Linked DNA regions of Homo sapiens: region 2 is linked to region 1. The links come from fine-mapping of genetic effects on gene expression. A gene starts in region 1. The other region holds a variant in brackets. All regions are shown on one strand. Distances are between the middles of the regions.

The links. PIP is the estimated chance that this variant, and not a neighbour inherited with it, causes the effect. A credible set is the group of variants that fine-mapping cannot tell apart.
Region 2: its variant is the best candidate, but not a certain one, in a credible set for the expression of DUSP16 in memory regulatory T cells (Schmiedel 2018, PIP 0.67).

What each region holds. Positions count from the first base shown.
Region 1 is chr12:12,560,735-12,565,957 of GRCh38, reverse strand. DUSP16 (dual specificity phosphatase 16) reads left to right here and starts at 3,095. Exons shown (of 7, transcript NM_030640.3): 1 at 3,095-3,841. RefSeq lists silencers at 2,786-3,295, 3,746-3,825, 3,856-3,975, 3,996-4,195 and an enhancer at 5,106-5,165.
Region 2 is chr12:12,397,897-12,403,388 of GRCh38, reverse strand. The region is part of intron 2 of BORCS5 (BLOC-1 related complex subunit 5); the gene reads right to left. Among named protein-coding and RNA genes, the nearest start is that of BORCS5, 44 kb to the right of the region's middle. The variant C/TC (reference allele first, on the strand shown) is at 2,800.

The DNA of each region.
Region 1 (5,223 bases):
TCCTAGATGGGATGGCGGCCGGGCAGAGACGCTCCTCACTTCCAGATGGGGCAGCCAGGCAGAGGGGCTCCTCACGTCCCAGACGATGGGCAGCCAGGCAGAGACGCTCCTCACTTCCCAGATGGGGTGGCGGCCGGGCAGAGGCTGCACTCTCAGCACTTTGGGAGGCCAAGGCAGGCGGCTGGGAGGTGGAGGTTGTAGCGAGCCGAGATCACGCCACTGCACTCCAGCCTGGGCACCATTGAGCACTGAGTGAACCAGACTCAGTCTGCAATCCCGGCACCTCAGGAGGCCGAGGCTGGCGGATCACTCACGGTTAGGAGCTGGAGACCAGCCCGGCCAACACAGCGAAACCCCGTCTCCACCAAAAAAATACGAAAACCAGTCAGGCGTGGCGGTGCGTGCCTGCAATCGCAGGCACTCAGCAGGCTAAGGCAGGAGAATCAGGCAGGGAGGTTGCAGTGAGCCGAGATGGCAGCAGTATAGTCCAGCTTCGGCTCGGCATCAGAGGGAGATCGTGGAAAGAGAGGGAGCGGGAGCGGGAGCGGGAGAGGGAGAGGGCTGTTTCCACATATTTATTGTTAGTATGTAGAAAACCTTTCTTAGTAAAAGAAAGAAATGTACTCTTCGGTGAAGTAAACTTGTTTAGTGGTTTCCCCTTCACCTGCTGGGCAGGTAACAATCTATTTATTCTAACATTCAAGTACCTCCACAATGTGCCTCTGTATCTCTTAAATTTAACCTCATACCTAATTGCTAAATACCGATTTCTACTGCTACTGGGTTTACTCTTCTGTCACTTGAATACACCTTACTCATTATTCATTCCACCTCCATGTCTTGGCTCATTGCCATTTGCCCTCTGGAATCTTCCCTCCACTGGCTTCTTCACTGCAAACTAAATCTGAACTGTCCTTCAAGGATAAGGTCAAAACTCTTTATAAGGTGCCTTCCCTGATAATCCCAGCCTACATTGCTCCTTTTCTCCCCTGATGTTTTTTTTTGTTTGTTTGTTTTTTTTTTTTTTTTTGAGATGGAGTCTCACTCTGTTGCCAGGCTGGAGTCTGGAGTGCAGTGGTGCGATCTCGGCTCATTGCAACCTCCACCTCCCGGGTTCAAGTGATTCTTCTGCCTCAGCCTCCTGAGTAGCTGGGACTACAGGCGCCCACCACCACGCCTGGCTAATTTTTGTATTTTTAGTAGAGACGGGGTTTCACCATGTTGGCCAGGATGGTCTCGATCTCTTGACCTCATGATCCACCCGCCTCGGGCCTCCCAAAGTGCTGGGATTATAGGCTTAAGCCACCACGCCCGGCCCCCTGACTCTTTTAACCAATATTGTACATCACTCAATCATTGATTTCGTTTTTAATGAGCTTTAATATACGTCTTGTTTCCAGAAATAGATGAAATACCCTGAGAGACTTCTATGATAGCTATGATGGCACCACATCATACATTACACAAACTTAATTGTGTAACTGAGGAAAGGGGAGAAACGTTTCAAGCCATGTCAGTTAAAGCAAGGTTACTGGAACTTTGGCATGCAAAGGGGATACCATTAATTCTCATGAATCTTTCCTCCAGGCAAGATCCATGCTCTGTACCACTAGTAAAAGGACTATCTTCTTCTTCCTTCCTAAAAATCCCAACACCTCCAACAAAGGTCTACAGTTAGATTTTTAGGGGTTTCCTGGTAGAGCACAAATAATCCCAAGGAAGCTGCAGTAACACCTCCTGGCCACCAGAGGACAGGGAGCAGTGGGAGAGATTTGCTTCCCCTAGCAAAGTCTTCAAGAGGCCAGAGGCACAGGCTCAAAGTTGCTTCTCCATCTGTGGCCTTCAGGCTTTACCTACTACTGCCAGAGGTGCTAGGGTGCCTCCCATCTTCAAATGGGCTTTTTTTTTCCCTCCTATAAAAGATGGGCCAGAAGTTCCCAGGGCCATACCCCGCAACACTAACCTTCAATGATTACCAATCATAAGGAATGCCTTTAGTTGCAGGACTTAAAGGCAGAAAAGTAGTAACAGGGGTGTATTATCTTTCGAACCCACCCAAACCTGCTTATCAGTTCTTTTGCTAGTGGAAAAACGTGCTTTAGGCAGGGTGCACATGGATATCCCACAGCAAACAGTGCCTTTAGGGTCTAGTGTCCCAATCCGGCACATTGTAAATGGAATATTTGAAGAGTTAGATTATTCCTACACATAAATTCTGGCTCATGGAGCAGTCCACTCGCAGGGTGCTTTTCCGTCATTAATCACATCTTTGTTATGTGATATCCACGTGAGTACTTCTCAGTAGAAGCAGCTTCATGCTCAAATGCTCAAAGAACATTGGAATAAAGCTCCGATTGTCCTATTCAGTGATTCCAAGTCCTGGTTTGTCACCACCTCAGGTCTCTCGTTTTCCAAAGTGCATAATGTCATCTCAAAACAGACATTTTAATGAATTCAAATAATAAAATGCACGAGGTATGTGGAGTTAAATCAACAAGGGTTTTGTACCTCTCAAGAGGCGGTTAACCCCTGGTCTTATTTAAAGATGTTTCTGCGCTGCCTCCTGTAGAAAACATTTTTAAAGAAAATGTAGGCTGCTTATCCTTGTATTTGTAAATATAAGCAAAGTAAAGTAATGTAGGAACATTTATGTGGGGGCTTTCAACCATAAACATATAGATAGCTGAATGCCTGACAACAGTAGTGTGATTTTTCTTGAAGTACCTGTAACTTCTCTCCTGAGAGATGGCAGAGCCTTGCCTTTTGCATTCGCCAGACTTTTTACAGAGCGAGTGTAATTCTCTCAAATCAGTGTTTGCGTTTTTTGACGTTGGTGAGGCAGCTGGAAACAGCTCAAGGAGGAGGGAAAGGTTCTGCGTCTGGGTGAGGGAGAAAACCCTCCGATACCTGTTGGGGCGCAGCACTGGAGGCGGACACCCCGGCCCGGGGGTCGGGGCCGCGAGCCCGGGGGTAGGGGGCGGGCGCGCGGGCGCGGGAGGAGGAGGAGGAGGAGGGAGAGGTGGGGGAGGAGGCCGCGGGGCCGCCTCCTCCGGCAGCTCCGGCTCCTCCCAGCGGCGCCCGCGGAACCTGCCTCAGAGTCGCCGGACTCTGGAAGGGAACATGACCTGACCCCTCCCCGAGCGGCCGGAACGAGGCGCGGAGCCGCGCTCCGGGCTCGGGCGGCCGCGGGATGGGCGAGCGCGCGGCCCCGCCCGGCGCCCACCGCCCTGCCCTCGCCTGTCTCCTCCTTTCCCCGGGGCTCCGCTGAGTTCATTCACTGGGATTGGTTTCAAGTGACGCCATCTCTTTATTTTTAAACCAATGACCTCATCCGCGCTTGAAGTTTCCTGACCAGCGACTCTTTCTCTTTCCCCCAACCCCCCACCCCACCCCCCCGCCTTTCCCCCTCTTTCTATGTATCAGTGTTTGGGGGGCTTTAATCAGTTTTTAAACGATTATTACCACCTCTCTCTCCCCCCCAACCCCCACTTTCACAACGCGGCCCCCCACCTTTACCTCCCTAAGTTCTTCATCTCTTTCGACATTTTTTTTGAAGGCTGATGGGGGGGAGGGTGGAAGAGAAAGAGTGAAGAAAAGTTGCGAGCGTCTCCTCTCTTCCTAAGCCTCCCGCCCCAACCCACCCCTCAGAGAAGGAGAAGATAATATACTGAAAAGAAGAGGAGGAGGAGAGCGACGGGACGGGACGCGAGCGGGAGCGCAGCCGCCCTCTCGGCTCCGCGGCGGCGCCTCGCAAGTCCGGGAGGCGAGGGGGGCCCGAGGGGAGACGCCGTGACAACTTTCGTTTCCCTCTGAGGGAATTGGGAGGTCGGCGGCCCCAAAAGTAAGTGGCCTTGGCGGGCCGCGCGGGGTGTGCGGGCGGGAGGGTGCGGGGCCCGGGGCGCCCTCCCGCCCGGCCGCATGGACGCTCCGCAGCGCGCCCCGACTCCCGGTGCCGGGCGCCGCGCTCCAGCCCCGCCGTCTCTGCCTTCCCGGGCGTACCGGCCACCCTTTCGGGAGGCGGCGTGGGGGCGACCGCGGCCGGGGGCCGCAGGAGCGTTTGAAGCGGGGGTGTAGGCCTGGCCGGAGGCTGGCCGGAGCGGGAAGGGGGCGTGCGGCCGGGCGCGGGGTCGCAGTGGGTGCGCTCCCGGCCGCTGCGCGGCGCTTGGACCGGGCCCCGCCGAGAGGAGCGGCCGCCGCGGGACGCGGCACCTTTGCGGGCGAAGCTGCTCACTTCCAGGCGCGACTGTTACACAACACGCCTGCCAAGTGGGGCCCTGGCCTGACTGTTCCCATTATCCCCAGTTCGCCTTTGGTGTAAGCAGCGAGGCCACCTGGGTGGTGACGGTGCTGCTTTCTTCAACCAACCAACCGAAAAAGCCCTCAATTTTCGGACAGGGGCTCGGGTCTTGGCGTTGGGGGGCCCGACGCCTAGTGACTTCTTTATTTACACTAGCTGCAAAACGTGAGAAATAAAAAAGCCCAGGGTCTGTGTATCACGTGTAGTTTCATGTAATGAAACACCACAGAGGGAAATATTTTCAGATGCTGGGTTTATTTCCTAAAGAATACCAATAATGAACCAGAGAAAAGGCAAGTAGATCTGAAAATGAATGGATACTGCAAAATCCTAAAGAAGTTTAGGAAACATCAACTGCAAGGATTCTTGGCGTTTTGAAGTCGTGGGTGTCTCAGATTGGAGAAAGCACACCTCTAACCAGCCTGTGATGAATAAGCTGGGGAGGAAAAAAACCTGTTGCATAATCTCATTTGCCGTGGGGTTTGCTGTGCCATCCCCTTGAACCAAAGGGAAGTGAGTTAAGATGCAGGGTTTTAAAACTCTCTGAAGTTTTTATTTACCCAGCGCTCTGGCTCCCACTTCTGTTTTAAAAGATTATAAGTAAATACTCTGCTCTTTCAAGTGAACCAAACCTATCAAACCTGTTTAGAAAATAAACCAGGTATGTTTCTTTCTCTTCTTTCTTTTCCGCCTCTGTGTGTGTGTGTGTGTGTGAAATTTACCATCCATGCAAAAGTTTAGGACTAGTGTTTGGGGAACTGAGACTGTCAGAAAAATGCCTCTTTATGCCACTCACCTTATGGGGCTGATGGAGAGTCCACGTAAAGGATAACCGTTTCCTCAAAGGATTTATGCTGTTTCACCTCCATCAAGAAAAGGGCTTTTTAAAGTTAAGGTAAAATTTTAAAAGAAAAGATTTCGTACCA
Region 2 (5,492 bases), 160 kb after region 1:
AAAAGCCAGCAGAAGCAACAGACCTCTAACAGTGAAACAGCCAAATAATCCAACATGAACATATTTTGAAGAGAAATATCTTTGATTTTATGATGCAATTAAGTCAGGGAGACAGATGTGCAAACTAGTTAAATATACAGGTTTTAGAATTAGATCTGAGTTTAAATCCTAGCTCTGCCCTTAATAGCTGTGTGACAGGAAAGGTCTTTCATCTCTCTGAGCCTCAGCACCCTCATCTGCCAAATGAGGAAAATACCTACCCTAATAGGTTGTACAAGGATTAAACGAGAAAATACATGTAACACTTTTGTGCAAAAAAAAAAAGGGAAATGTGGTTATTATTAACGAAAAAGTGGGACTGTGTATACTCAAGCCACTGCTTCTATTCAATTTCTAAGAAATAATAATGAGTAGTACCTAAACACTTTGGAAGTTTTCTGGGCACCAAGTATAAAACTATGTGGAAAGTTTTTCTATCCTACCAACGTTCACGTATACAACTTTCACTATGAAGACGTGATAAAGCTAAATTATACCTTAGAAGGAAACAAAGACTTTAAAACATGTTTGTTTTCATGTTAATTACAGTAGAAGCTAATAGAGAAATAAAGTTCAAATACTTCTGGAATTATTTTTAGGGAGACTTTTGTTTAAAAACAAGTTAAAGAACAATTGAAGGTGACAGGGAATCAAATTTGGACTTATGGGAAAAAGGGGAACTCAACTACTCAAAGATGTTCCATAACAGAGCAGATTTCCTTATATGACAACGAGCTGCTTCTGATCAGATGTTGAGCAAGTCAAGGTTAAAAGTCTACTTCAATGAGATATTCCACAAAAGACCCTCAATTCAGGAACTCTGCAGGAAGCAGAATATTGGATAAAACTCTTGAACACTACAACACACAACCAACTCTCTGGTGTCCACAGTAGGGCAGAATTTCCCTCTAATAATCATCCCTAATTAGAGAAGGGTCTCCAAATTCAGGTAAGAGACAAATTTGCCACTCAATTCAAATATGACAGAAGCTGAATTCACGAATCTCATGATCCTTAAGCATGTTGTTTTGCTCTCTCAACTCTTTTTTCTCCCTTGATGCCCTGCTTTTATCAGCTATCCAATCTAATTCCATGAATAGTTACTGGCTTCTAGAAATCTATCCCAAAGAAACAAACTCAGATGAAATTTATGCACCAAGATTTTGTACTCCAGTATCATTTTAATACCCAAAATGTCCTCCAATGGGAGAATGATTAAACTATATTTATATTTACAAAAAGAAATGTTATCCAGCTGTTTACACTTTTTTTTTTTTTTTTTTTGAGACGGAGTCTCGCTCTGTAGCCCAGGCTGAAGTGCAGTGGCGCCATCTTGGCTCACTGCAAGCTCCGCCTCCCGGGTTCACGCCATTCTCCTGCCTCAGCCTCCTGAGTAGCTGGGACTACAGGCGCCCACCACCAAGCCCAGCTAATTTTTTTGTATTTTTTTTTTTTAGTAGAGACAGGGTTTCACCATGTTAACCAGGATGGTCTCGATCTTCTGACCTCGTGATCCGCCCGCCTTGGCCTCCCAAAGTGCTGGGATTACAGGCGTGAACCACCGCTCCTGGCCTTAGATGATGTTTTCAAACAATATCCAATGACATGGGAAATGCCACAATAGAATTTTAAGTAAAATTGTGATATAAAATGACAAATTTTAATTATAAAGTAAATGTATACTTTACATAGGTCTACACTAGAAGGAAAAATATAGCAAGTTATTAACAATGGCTATGTCTAGGTAGAATTTTTAATTTTCTTTTTTGTCATTTTGTTTTCCAAGTTCCTTAAAATAATCATATATTCATTTCGTGATCAGAAAAAAAATTATTAAAAAAATAAATATGGCAAAAAAGCTATGTTATAGTTATCTTGGATTTGTAACTCAGAAATCAAAACAATTCTTTTAAAAGGAAGAAGCATGGTATAAGAAAATTAAGTTTGCATCTGACCCTATGTTTGAGATGGTTGCTAAGCACGATGTTGTCTTTAAATTAATCAATAAGCAAGGAACAGCTGGGACAATATCCGGTTTTACTGAGGATGTGGAACAACAGGAACTCTAATATATAGCTAGTAAGGCGATAAAAGAGCATAACTACTTTGAAGAGTAAATTGACTGTATCTAGTAAAGCTGAAAATACATGTGCCCTACTAGACAGCAATTTGTTCCTAGTTACATACCCTAGAGAAAACTCTCATACATGTGCAAAAGGAGACATGTACAAAGATGTCCACTGCAAAACTGTTTAATAGTAAAACAACTGGAAACAACTCAAATATTCACTAATAAGTCAATGGATACACTGTGAAATATTCATTTGATGGAATACTACGCAGCAGTGAAAATAAGTGAGACATATATCAACATGGATAAATCTCAAAATTATAAGGAAAAGAAAAAAGAAAGTTACACAAGTAGCTGAAGGATACATATAGAACACAACTTATATAAAGTCAAAACAAGTGAAAGAATATTCTACACCGCTTAGATATACAAAAACATGTAGGAAAAAGACAAGCCACGAAGAAAACACATGGGCATGATGAATGCCAAAATCAGATCAATAATTCCCTGTGGAGTGGGAGGAGGAGGGAATATCAGGGAAGGATATAAAGGATGGGGAGGGGGCGTTGTTTATTTGAAACGTGTATTTTTCTTCCTGCAGGGAAAGAGATCTGAAGCAAACATGGCAAAATATTAAAATATGACAAATTTGATGAATACACAGGTGTTTGCTATTTTTTTTTTTTTTT[C/TC]TGTATGCTGACATACTGCAAATGAAAAAGAAATTCTAGGTAGCAGCTGATAATCTCTATGGAGGACAAGGCATCCTATCCACAGCAGTTTCTTAAACCCTGCTGGGTCTAAGGCCCCTCTGCAAAGCTGATGGAATCTATGGCTCCACTTCCCATGGGGTTTATTATGCTACCACCACTCCACCCTTGGTCACCTCAGGAGACATTCAGGAAAACCCATGCCCACTCTTTTGTCATGTGGTTGACCGAGGTAATTTCAACTCTTGCTAAGAGTTACCAAGGCCAGACAATTAGACAGGGAGAGAGCGTGAAACATTGGCTGCTCAGAGAAATAGCCTGTGATAAAAACAAGATTTTCACTGAATCAAGGCTGCCAGGGTAACAACTAGTGAAAAAGCTAAAAATCCAGTGGTACACATGCAACTGAATGTTTTCAAACCAACTTAAAAGGTAGGGGAAGCATTACGGAAAACATTCTTCAACTTAATTCAGCCTTGGTGCGAAGCCAAGGTTCTAAGTAGTGACTGACAACAAAGATTAGTGGGATTTGTTCATACTTCTCAAAATTTTCCTCTATTTGCACATCTTATTTAATAACATTTAATTTGGTTAATTTTTAGCAAACATTTGGCTAATGTCTATGCTTAGCTTTTCCAATAAAGCACTGTGTTATTTTCAGAAAGTCCAGATGAGTGGAAAACAATGACACTTTGAGTTACTGACTCAGTTAATAAAACCTAAGGGAAAATGGCTGCTGAGACTTAGAAGTCATGACGGAAACAACTGGTGACAGTACACCTAAATTACTGGCTAAGCACCTAGAAGGACACAGTCTTTGGCAGGACAGGCTTAAAAGATTGAAACCTACAAAGGGACATTAAATACTATTAATTCAACATGTATGTGAAGGTCTTTAACTGCTGTAATTATCTCAGAGGGTTTTTCTTTTAGAAGTTCTAGATCTGTGGTACTCAGAATTGTCCCCAAAATGCCAACATTGTAAGCTTAACAATGCCATGTAAAATCTCCTGTTTCTTTGTTATGGTCTTTCATTATCTCCATTGTATTCCATCTTTATATTCCAATCCAAATCTTTTATTCATGCCTGCCTCTTCCCTGTCCTCTCTTATTTCCCCTCTACCTTACCTGCAACCCTGACCTCCACCCCAGGCTGCCTCTTGAAAATGCAGAGCAACCACCCAAAGAGCTGGAGAGTGAGTGTTGATTTGGGGAACAATAGTGGGCTACGTAAGAAACCCTTTTGCAATTCACCTTTTTTTTTCCTTCCCTCCATCCAATTTTTCCAAACTTTTTCCCCCAATACTGTTGTTTTTCCCTGAAATTCACTCTGAGGAGTGAATAGGAGTGATAGGTTGAATGAAACCTATGCTACAGTATAAACACACAACTTCTTAAAACTTTCCAAGATCTTTATGCTAAGGAACAACAAAGAAAACTGTGCTGCTTAGTAATACTGTAAAACACATACTGTTTTAGCCCCCCTGAAACACACAGAGGTAATCTGGAAGAAGGAAGGCCTCTCCTGGCCATCGCAGAGACTGGGGCACCACTGGCAATTCAGTGGGCAGGGACAAAAATTGCCAATACACGGCAGTGACACACAATAAAGGCTGGCCCACCCAAGATGCCAGTAGCACCCCAACCGTCTCTCCCACTCTTATTATGATACACTGGACCACAGACACTCATGTAGCCAGATAACTCCAACTAATTTCAATAAATAGTTGGCTAATCTTGACATTTTCTGCCTTGTAGGAAAAGGTAAAATCAGCTATCGATTGGGCTGCCTGAATTCCCAATATCGCACAGATATCTGGGAAGGGGGAGGCAGGTGGTGGCACAAGGTCTGCACAGTATTGCCTCCTAGTGTTTGGAAATTCTCATTAAAATGACCATATTTTGAGTTTGATAGCACTGTATTCCAGAGACTTCTTCACTCATCCTTGATGCAGCATTATATTGAGCCAAAAGAGCTACAGGGGCCATTCTTCCCTGAAAATGAGTCAAGATGGTTACACAACCCTCCGCAGGGATCTGCACACAACGGCCCTCTGAGGGTGTGGGGGAGGACATGGTAAACATCTCTCCCCTTCATCAGCTCATGTTCTGACTCAGATTTTTCCTGACAAAACAAACATGGCTTTGATTACATATTAATTATTTTTGTAGCAAGCAGCTCATTCTCACATTCCTTCTCCTGCTCATTTTCCCTCCATAATTCTTTACCCTTTGCCCACAATCCCTCCTCCCAGTCATGTTGTACTATTTGTATGGAAAAAAAAAATTTTAAAGAGTTGCTTCTTGCCAAGTGTGACATCAACTCATTCTTATTTAGTGATGTCCCGCAAGAACTTGCTCTCCCAAAACGTTTGCTCAGTTTTGAGGCAACAAGATTACTCACTGCATTGTTTTCCCTGTCACTTGTTTTTGATGCATTAGTGCATCTTCTGAAACAGATGACATAACACCTAATTTCTATGACCCAAAGCGCTATACACATGTATACAAGCATCTTTTCAGACAGCTTCAGGAAGACAAAGCATTGCTCCTAACTTACTAAGAAGGAAAAAATAACACTATAACAAGATAACGATAATTTTAACCTCCCTGAAAAAGCTCTCTCTGCTTTCGGTAACAAGAAACAGCTATATGATAGTAAGGAAAATGTAAGC